Regions from separate parts of the Homo sapiens genome. Here region 2 is linked to region 1. Evidence: fine-mapped expression QTL. A gene starts in region 1. The other region holds a variant in brackets. All regions are shown on one strand. Distances are from middle to middle. Region 1 holds the start of PSMD6-AS2 (PSMD6 antisense RNA 2). Region 2 has its middle 5.5 kb from the start of PRICKLE2-AS1.

Region 1 (5,386 bases):
TTATATTCTTTCCAATAGAATTTCATGACAACTCCTGCAGTTTTCTTAACCTACAAAAAAAAAAAAAAAGTGCTGCAATGATGAACAAAGAATTATACAAAACCTACTTTTGTATCTTTATTTTGGAATTTCTTGTTCTATTATAAATATGGAAGTATCCCTATTTCAGAAGACATATTTTGTTAAAAATGAATTGTACATATTTAAATATGTATTTTTGCACAGGTCTTTTTTTCTGATATCCTGTTTTGGTACAATTGAGATCATCTAGTATTTATTTATTAATTAATAAAAGTAAATACCTTTTTATAATTTGAAGTGGTTCACTGCCAAGCCAATAGTTCTAGAACCTGCCTCCTTTACAGTTTTAAGGGATGCCTCTGTTCTGTGAAAAGTCTTTGTCCCTTTTAGTGTCTCGGGAGTGGATTCATACAGATGAAGTGGGCATTGCTTCTTCCTGGTTGCCTGGTTTCCCGATAGACTACATGTAACTAAGTGACACACTGCTTTTCTTTTGTTAGTATTTTATGTGTGGGAGTATGTGACTGCGTGTGTGTGTGCCTGTGCGTGTGTGTGTATACTCAGCACATGTATGTTACTATGTGATGTGGTTTAAAACTAATGGAAAAAACTGAAAGTGCCTGAAACTAGTTTTAAGCTTAGACAGAATCTCTTTAAAAAGACTTGAATGTTCAGTTGAACTTTTGGAGTTTGCTTTTTCCACCTAAATATTGTTTCTAAAATTTTAGGGGCGGAGTTGAAAACCACCAATGCTGGTAATTTTATAAGGTATTTTAAAATTAAGACCTCTTGGTTCATAGTAATTCAATTGGTGATGGATTGCCTGGTGGCACCAAGGGTTACAGATCTTTTTGTCAGCCAGCAACTTACACGATGTGTCCGTTTTGTTATTCACTCATGAAATACAATTTAAAATATTTAAAATATTTTGTATTCCAAAAATATAATACAAAGAAGTACCTCTGAGAACATTGAAAAAAATGTATAATTTGAAAAATGTAACTTATAAGGGCAGCTGTCTTCCTGCAAGAGTTCTGTTGCCAAGGAATTTCTTAATGTCGCTCATTCTGTCCAGGGGGTTTGGGGCGATTGGGCTTTGAAAAAATATTCTTAAAAGTTTGTTTAGCAGAAAATAATCACTTTTACATTTTGTGCAAAACATTTTACATTTTCAGATAATTTAAATGAGCACTACATACTGTCAGTGTGAATGTAGGGCCTTGAAAGCATTTTGCTTTTTTTTTTTTTTTTTTTTTTTTGAGCTTGGTTATAAAAGCAATCTCCTGTGTTAAAAACGTGTGAATAGTTTGATAATTTGTACACATAATCAAGAGCATCTCAGCTGGACTTTGTGTTGGCTGCTGTATAGAACATGAACAAATGTCAAGGGATAGAAAATTACTTTGGATATTTAAAAGAGAAGAAATATATAGTCTATTTGTTTTGTAACAAGTTTCTGTAAATAAAATAATTTATACTATTTATAAGAAAAGGTTGTGCTTTGCTTTATAAGAAATTAGCTTGTGGAACAAACATGTTACTAAACGGGCAATAAAATTAGGACTTCTCAATAAATAAGGTTGGCTGCATGAAATATTGTACGTTTCTGCCTCGTTGTGATACTAAACCCTTTCAGTCTACTCTGACTTTTCATCACTTTTGGCATGGAACACCCTTGTGAAGCCCCTTCAATTTAGCCTTCCTCTTATATAAGCTAAATACTTCTAAGGCCTGGGGATGTTTCCATCTGGGGGCACAAAGCTTTGCTTTGGATAAATTAGTAACTGTGTAAACAGTGAACATTACTGTATTCTGGCCTTGCATGTTTGTGAAAGAAACGAGGGAGTTGATGGATTGAGAAACACATTCTATTTGTACTTAGGTGCAAATTTGATGACATGTAGTTTTGGTTTAAGATAAGCTTTTTATCCAGACCCGGTCTAATCTCTTCCTTTCTTTTACATACCTCCCTTACTGGCAATACAAGTGCATTTTAGTATTATTTGGAACACAGCATAATCATTTACCTCTAGAAATCCAGACATTTTTACTGTTTGCAAATAAACCATTCTGATAAATTATTTTTGTTGCTTAAAATAAGAGGAGGAACCGCTGTGTGTTAGCAAGAATGTCCATACCTGATATGAAAGAGTCATGTTGGCTTCAGTTCCTACTGCCCTGTGGACTTCCCATTCCCTCCTTACTTGAGTCAACCATCCACTCAGTACTTTCCACAAATCTAATAATGAGGTGCTCTCTGTAGGTAAATCCTTTCACTATGGCTTGTCCTCAAACCTCCCAAGAAAAGGTTCAACTGCTCAATCTCTTAACCTTTTTAATTCCATTCCCTTGCAGGTATCCCGGCCCTGCATAACAAGATGATCCCAACTCAAGGAAAGGGGTTTAGCAGTGTTGGATCTTGGCGTATGTGGGATTTAACCAGGCAGAAAGGCAGACAAGAGTAAGATTCTAGGCAGAGAGAGCAAATGCGTCGAGCATGGGTATGAACATGTGAGGGATAGAGAATAATTCTGCAGGAAGTTTGCTGGATGGAAGGGCCTTATAGGGTTAGAAAAGCTGGTGTCAGATTGTCAAGGACTTTGAATGTCATGGGGCTTCTCTTCCAGGAACACATGGGATCAGGCTTAGATTAACCCAAATGTAATTGTCAGAGCCCAGAGATATTTCATGGTCCAGTCCTAGCACTGTGCAGCTGCCAAAAGTCAAAGCCATTCAAATCTGTACTGAAAACTGTGGAAAAGCAAAGGAGCACTTAAGTCTCTTTCCCCATGTCTTGCATTCTCACTCTCTTTTGCTTCAAAGATCTGTCTTTACCTGCCCCTGTCCCCAGTCCTAACAAAAAGCACTCCCCTAAATCAACTCTTAAGTTCCTCTCCCTTCTCACTCCTTTCTTAGTCTCCTCTTTCTGTAAGAAGTTCTTGCTCCTGTTGTTAATGGAAGTTAATTAAAGTAGTATTTCACCTTGTAAGGCTGTAATTCTTGGCACTTGTTATCCTCATTTTCTACATCCAAAGACCATGGACCAGAATATCTCTTAGGAGGTAAGGGAGAGTGAGGCTATCAGCCAAAGAAAAAGTCTCCAGGGGGAAGGGGAGAATCACTTATAATTTAATACTTTGTGGAAAAAACATCTCTGCCACCTATGGCCCTCCAATAACAATGGAAGACAGAATCAACAGGTGAGAACCTTGGGACAAAAATAAGTTACAAAGCTGTTGTAATCCAGGTAAGAGCTATTAAGTTTCCAAACGAAGGCTGACTGTGAGGATAAGTGATACTGATTTCAGAAATCTTTAAAAAGTAGAACCAACAAGCCTTGAGGTCTAACTCTGTTCAACATTAAAGGGAAGAGTGAGTCTAAGAAGACTTCAGGTTTCTAGCTTGGCCAAACCAATTGAGCTTTAAGTGAAATGTGCGATATGGTAACAGAGAAGGAAAAAGACATAACGATAGATTTGAGCTGCTGGTGGGAAATTCTGGTTTAGTGCCCAGCTGGCTGTACAGGCTGGTTGGACTTTAGGAGGGAGGTTTGAGCTGGAAAATAAAGATGGAGAGTTGTCTTTCAGTTTTAGATCATCAGTGAGGTCATAAGGGTAGATGGAGTTTACCTGGGAAAATTAAGTAGCTATTCGATTTGGCTTATTATTATGTTAAAATAATACTTCTCTAGTGAAGTACTTAATATGCCAGATACTGTGCCAAGCATTTTATATACATCCTCTCTTTTACTAAGCCCTCATAGGGCAGGTATTTTGATTCCAATCATACTGATTGGAACTCCTAAGAAGGTATCTTGCTTAAGGTCCCACAACGAATAGGTGGCAGATCCAGGGTAATTCAGGTCTGTCAGAACAGTGATTCTTAATTTTTTCCCTCCTCAGACTCCAGGAGTCACATGAAGTTATGCATCCTGTCTGACCGAGGCACAGGCACACCACATTTTTATATTCCGCTTCCAGGATATCACAAACCTGAAGCCCATCCTCCATGGCCCAGAGAGAAAACCCAGGACAAAACCTTGGAGAAGACTATTTTCATGAAGACAAATGGAGAAGGAGCAGTAGAGTAAAAAGAGAGGTAAGGGAAGGCATTGAGATGGTTTACAGGGTTAGATGTTTTGAGTCAATCCCATTATAATTACCAATGCTATCTACCTATTTAGTTAACGTTTTATTGCCCTGCTGTTTTCTCCAGGATAATTGGAACAGCATGTATTGGTTGGGTGGAAAAGATAGAACTTGAGCAGGGAGATTGCCAAAGAGTGAAGATGTGGCTGAGTGATTGATGATGGTCTGAACTGGGTATTCAGGGAAGAGAACTAGAAGCCAACCATGTAGAATCTATGCAGGTGCTCTTAAGACATTGGTTTGACTGGAATTATCTTCTTGTTAGGTCTTAGGAATCTCCTTCCAGGTAACTTTTTCTATGATTAGACAATTGATTTGTTCAGGGTCACAGAGCAAAGTCCACATTTAATTCCACATGGCCAATAAAAGTGAGGGGCTACAAGGTGAGATCCAGGGGCCAGAGTTATCAAAGTGATACAGCACTTTTAGGAATAGGACAGGGAATGGAGGAATTGGAATTCCAGTATTACTTTCAAAAGCAGAACTGGCCAGAGGAATTGGAATTCCAGTATTATTTTCAAAAGCAGAACTGGCCAGAGGTGCTTGTGATTCCTGGGTGGAAACCATGGCAGTGGACAGAAGCAGCATGGAGGAAAAGAGCACTGGAATTCAGGCTGAGGAACTGTGAAGCCAAGGGTGTTGTATAGGTTGTCCATTTCAAATTAGGGTTGCTTGGTTCTGGGATGATTTGCATGGAAGAGGGGAGAGTGACTTGGAGATGTGTGATTGAGGACAGTGAGCACAGTGAGTTGATGGTGTTGCTGGGTTATAAGCAGCTTCAAAGAGAAGGCATTTTGAATGAAGGTGGAAACATAATGGCCAGGAGAACAAGCAAAGGACTAGGAAACAGTGAACTTCATCTTGGCCTCAAGTTCCTGAGGTGCATATGAATAAACAGTCTCTAACCCAGAGGGTTTCAAGAAAAGCAGAGTCCTCAAAATCCAAAGGTAGAGTTTCCCCACATTGATATTATACTAATTACACGTATAACAGTACTTTGGAAAAGCACAGGTCTCTGGTCACCTCTAAAAGGCAAGGTTGGTAAGGAGGTCAGGGTGTCACCTGTTGGTAGTCTTAACTAAATGGTCTCTTCAAGGGATCTAAGGATGGAAAGGGGATATATAATGGTTGGATTAAAGGCTCATCATTGATTAGCAAATTGTCCCTTTTGTTTCTTAAACCCAATTTGTACAGGGAAAGTTATGCCACTGTAAGAT
Region 2 (5,386 bases), 58 kb after region 1:
ATATCTGACACGGTGTAGACACTCATGAGATATCTTGTGAGGCTCATTAGATAATTAGAGGCTCATTTGATATTTTGAAATAACTTAAGTCAATTTAGGAGAAATTAGAGTATTTGGGGCCCAGATCCTAAAAGATGGATATATTATTCTCCAAGTATAAATTAGGCATTTTGGAGAAATCTCAGCTATTCCAGGAATTAAGGGCATATGTCATTACTACAGGAATAGTAACAACATTGTGGAATTTCATAGAATCTCCCCTTCTCACACTCCTCCTCAAATTTCAAGGCTTTAAAAATACATTCATTATTTAAGGTTATAAATCCTCTGTAGGCTCTTTAGAGAGAATTTGAAACACACATAAAAATATAAAGAAAAAAATCAACCATAATGCCTTCACTTAGGAACAGACATTGTAAACATTTTGGCTTATTTCTCCCCAGTAATTTTGTAAGCACATGGTTACAGAACTAGGATAATACTGCATGTAAAGCTTCTCACATCATGCTTTTCAGAATTAAAAAAATATATAACATTTTATTGTGATTAAAACGTGAATACATGTTTGTTGTAGAAAATCTGGAAAAAAACAGAAAAGTGTAAAGCAAGAACTAAAAAAAGAACTTCAATCTTGTCACTTCACAGAAGCACTGTTAATATTTTGGTGACCTTCCCTTCTGGGATTTTTAATTTTTTCTGGTCCTTAACAAACCTTTGGACTTACTTGAGAGAGTTGAGGCTATTTCTTCAGTGTCCAGTTACCATTTAACCAAGATGGAAGTTAAAGACCCCTGGAAAAGTCAAGCAGCTTAATAAAAACTAAATGGATTTCTTTTCCCAGTTGACGTTTGTTACTGTGACCCTTGAGGGTGGAGGGAAAGTACAGTACTATCTGGGAACAAAGATGCTTCATGAGTTGCAACCTATCTGATGCTCGCAAGATGGGAGCCTTCATGTCCCTGCATTGAGAGGTGGGCTGGACAAAGGGAAAGGACCATGGGAGTCAATAATGTATGAATGGACATTATGGGGTTAAGAGGTAGCTTGAGATGCTGTCAAAGCCTCAATCATCAATTCTAATTCAAAATGTCTGTGCTATCAAAAATTATATTTAGCTCATAAAATTGATGATTTATATTGAACAAAATCACACTAACCAATGGCCCCTCTTTTCCTCCCATGGGGCTTCTTTATTGTGATAAGCTAAGGTCATATAGATTATTGCCAAGAGGAATGAAACTCAATGGTCTCATAAAAACAGAAATAAAAACCCCAAAAATCATTATCCTGAATCTTATGTTTCACTGAAAAATGATTTTACCAAGTTGACTTCCAGGAGGCATCGTGGTGTGGAACAGGCACTAGTGCAGCTCTGCCATGTATTTGTGTGTGAACATGGGCATGTTATTGTTACTCTGAGTTCTGGATTTATCGTCTATAGAACCAGAGCTAACTACTCCTCCTCTGCACAGGTAGTGAGTGGCTCAAATTGGCTAACATGGGAAAGTGTCTGGCACCTACAAAGGAGACAGTGTTTGTTAGTTCCTTGTTTTAAGTTCATGGACTGCCTCTCATGACAGTAAGTGTGGTTGGTATATTATGGGGCACTGGTTATATGCATCAGTGTTTATTGTCATGGATTAATTTGAATATGGAGAATAACAATATTCTTCTTGCTTCTCACAGGTCTGCAGAATTGGAGAGAGCAAAAAGATTTGAGATAGGAAGGATGTTTCGGTTATATATCTTGAGTAAAGGGAAAGTTTATGACAAACATAGCATACCCTTGTCATTAAAAAGTTAAATAATACATGAGTATATGAAGTAAATAATGAAGGCAGTCCACCCCCATCATACACACCACCATGGAAGTAAACACTGTCACCAACTGTGTGTGTGCACAGTTCCAGAACTCTCTCTATTCATCACATGTACATGAACACACATACTTGCGGCTTCACAATATTTGCTCAGTATTGTGGCAATTTCCTTGCATTAGTGCACCATGGAGGCATCTCGTTTTTAAAAAACAGCTGCAACAGTTCCCCAAAATTTGGATGAACCATAATGTAACTGACCAGTCTGAGAAAAGGAAGAGGTGCAAATGCCAGTTCTTTGAATGCTGTTGGAGCAACTGTGAGCAAATACTTTAAGACTCTTTTTGGCTCACTAACTTCATCTGCATAATGGGCAAAAGAATACCATTGCCACCCATGGCGTTATTACGGCATTATCACATACTTCAAAGCATTTGACAAACACTAACGCAAAACCTGATGCTGCCTTTTATTTATTCCTGATTGGAGGAGGAAAGAGGAAGACTAGAGCCCATGCTAAAAGTGGGCACATTTCAGTTGTTTGTGTATTAATGTTTAATGCCAGAGCTTTGGGAAAGTCAGTGATGAAACATTTATGACAACTTGTTTGATAGCAAAACTGTTTGCCTTGGAATTTTAATTTTAGTCAGTTCTATTTTGATATAACTCCAAAGACCTTCGTTTCCCTCCTTTTTAGGGTGGTCCATTGTTCACTTGGGCAGAAACCCTCGGATTCAGAGGGCTCTTTTTACTAATCTAAAGGAAATGGCAAGAGGGTATCTCCCTGTCTGCCTTATGAAGATAATACAGAAATGAAGCTGGGATCTTTTTCAGTGCCCTTCAAAGAGGTGGGCTGGCCAGGCGTCTGGATTACTTAATTCAAGTGGTTGATGCCAGTAAGCAGTGGGAAGATAAGAGGCTAAAGGAACAATCACTATGGATCAGATGAATAAAAGCCCTTTCTGCACTCTCTCTCTCTCTCATATAATACTGTGGCATCTCACTTCTTACTAAGACAAGGCTATTCCATCCTCTTGACAACAAGATAGGCTTTA[T/C]TTCGCCTCTAGAATGGCCTCCAGCCCTATCTCTAGGTCACCAGCTCTTTCGCAAATGACACCAGCCTATGCCATGCTGATGTTTTCTTCAACTTTTTTCTTGGATGTGGCATTAAAAAAAAAAAAAACGATCAAGGCAGAAAATCAAGGCTTTTGATTTTTAGGAGAGAGGAAAGGAAGTGGGGTGGCTCTAGTTCCCCAAGTTACTAAGGAAACACATCCCACCAGGATGTTGAAGTTCCAGGATGATAAGAAAGGATACTTACTGAGACTAGCTGAGACTGATGCATTAATGAAACTCAGTATCAGTCTCCACAACGACCCTCCATGAACTAAAGGTCAGAGTCAAGTGCACTTTGAGCTAAGCAGAAGGAATTTGGTTCTCAGACAGATTGCTCACTAAATCAGTTGTCCTCGCAGTTCATACAGGAATTTTTCAACTTCTTGATTCTACCTTGGATAATAAACCTATTGCATAATTCATTGGCTCTTAATCAAAACACTGTGGATCTTCAAAATTGACCAGTGAGTGCCCTGACTTGAAGCCCCTTTTTTCCTCTAGTCTGTTAACTAATGAGTGTTTTCTACTTAATAGTTGCTGACACTTGGGAAATACTTTGAAAATATATTTGGGTTTCTTTTGGAAAAATGTTTCCATGATCAAAAAACAGACCTTCTCATTTTATCAGGAACAAAAATCCAGTTACCAGAGCATTCTGCTAGCAGTGATGATATGCTCCTGCTGCTGCCTGTGGACCTGACTCTACTCCATGTTGCATATTTTTTAAAACTAGGAAAGTTTTCCTTAACTGGAGGACTACACTCTTATCACATATTTCAAGATGCTTTTCTGCTTTAATTCTCAGGTGTGGTGTTGTTTGTTCTGCCTCCTGGGAAGCAGCTTTCAAACTCATTGTTCAAGTGTCCTTGGAATGAAAAAGACAAACCATCCCGTCAAGGGAACAATAGTTTCTACTTAGGGGGAAAGTACATCTTGCCAATTTCAGTTTGCATTGTCCCAAACATGTTTGTAAAACTCTACCCTGAATTATCTGTGATGAATACAGTATAAAGTTAACCCCCCACATGGAATGACTAACAAAAGCAGATGCGAAACAGCTAACAAAGAAAGCAAACACAAAGATAAAACAGCATGCGTCAAATCCTATGTCAATCATAAGAAAATGTTTTTCACATCTAATCATCGAAGATTAAAGGCTGGATATTTAAGGAATGTGAAAGAGGATGTCCTTCAGCAAACAATTTAAATAAGGTGAGAAGGCCATGTGGTGGGTGGAATGGGAAAAAAGAAATTTGAAAGGCAGACTTGGGGTTCGAGGTTCTATCTCTTCCATGAAATAGTTGGGTCAAAAGAGGTCATCTAACTAGTTTCCAAGACTCATTGTCACCACTTGTAGACAGAGACAATAGCAACAACAGCTCTCTATCCACCTTGTCAGGAACGAGGGAGGATCCAATGAGATAAGATACATGAAGTCACTATACAGTGCCATATAAATGTCTGCATTTCTAAAACAAAAGTTGGCAGTTGAAAGAGCAATGGCAAGTGAATGGATATGACTGTGGAGTTGTGGGAGCAGAGAATGGCCTGCACCTGCGGTCTGACCACCCCTGTTTCCCTGTCCCTCAGGAAGGCCAGATCATCAGACCTTTTCAGGGGTGTAGGGGGGACTCAGGGGCAGGCCACTCAGCTATGGGGCTAAGCAAGGCTCTGGGACTTCTCTCCTGTTCACACTGATGGCCCTCCTTCACTAATTGTTTCCAGGGAAAAATCAAGTGTGTCCTAGCTTGAAAGAATAATTATTGAATTAGCAGTTCCCAAACTCAGTGATGCATCAAGAATTACTCTGGGGGCCTTTATTTAAAAAGTACTAATTCTCACACTCCCAGACCCCTGCTCACCTTACAAAATCTGAATTGTTGGGGTCATACCCAGGAATACATATATTTTAATTATTATAATATTGAAGTATCAGATATCCAAGAAAAAGAGTGTCCCCAAATCCCAATCCCAAAGCATATCAATTTAAAATTTTTTTCCATTTTTAACTTCTAATCCCCCCCCATAGGTATATTTAGTACTTTCTTACTTTTAATAATATCGGAGGATTTAATATTCTACAATTTTCATCAGCATTATCTGATTAATATTTTTGTATTTCAATTGTTTCTTTTTACCTCCCTACACCCCTTCCAGATAACCACTGTTAAAACTTGTCATGTTTTCTTTCCTATCTTTCTCTATGCCAATAGAAACAAGCACATTTTTGGCCACTGCTTCTCTTACAACATGTATCTCCACATCTTGCTTCTTCCATTTAATAATGCATCATATAAATCCCTCCAGGTTCCTAGGTATAGAGCCAACTCATAGGTGCATAATAATCCATGGGGTATTAGTCCGGGTTCTCCACAGAAACAGAACCAACAGGAAGTACAGATAAATAGATAGATAGAGAGATGGGTTGATCAAGGAATTGACTCGTGCAGTTG

The links. PIP is the estimated chance that this variant, and not a neighbour inherited with it, causes the effect.
Region 2: its variant is the best candidate, but not a certain one, in a credible set for the expression of PSMD6-AS2 in adrenal gland (GTEx, PIP 0.70).

What each region holds. Positions count from the first base shown.
Region 1 is chr3:64,001,950-64,007,335 of GRCh38, forward strand. It overlaps PSMD6-AS2 (PSMD6 antisense RNA 2), which reads left to right and starts at 2,073. Exons shown (of 3, transcript NR_038286.1): 1 at 2,073-4,119. ATXN7 (ataxin 7) reads left to right here. Exons shown (of 13, transcript NM_001377405.1): 13 at 1-1,513.
Region 2 is chr3:64,059,749-64,065,134 of GRCh38, forward strand. No RefSeq gene overlaps it. Among named protein-coding and RNA genes, the nearest start is that of PRICKLE2-AS1, 5.5 kb to the right of the region's middle. RefSeq lists enhancers at 3,492-4,691, 3,542-4,365. The variant T/C (reference allele first, on the strand shown) is at 2,873.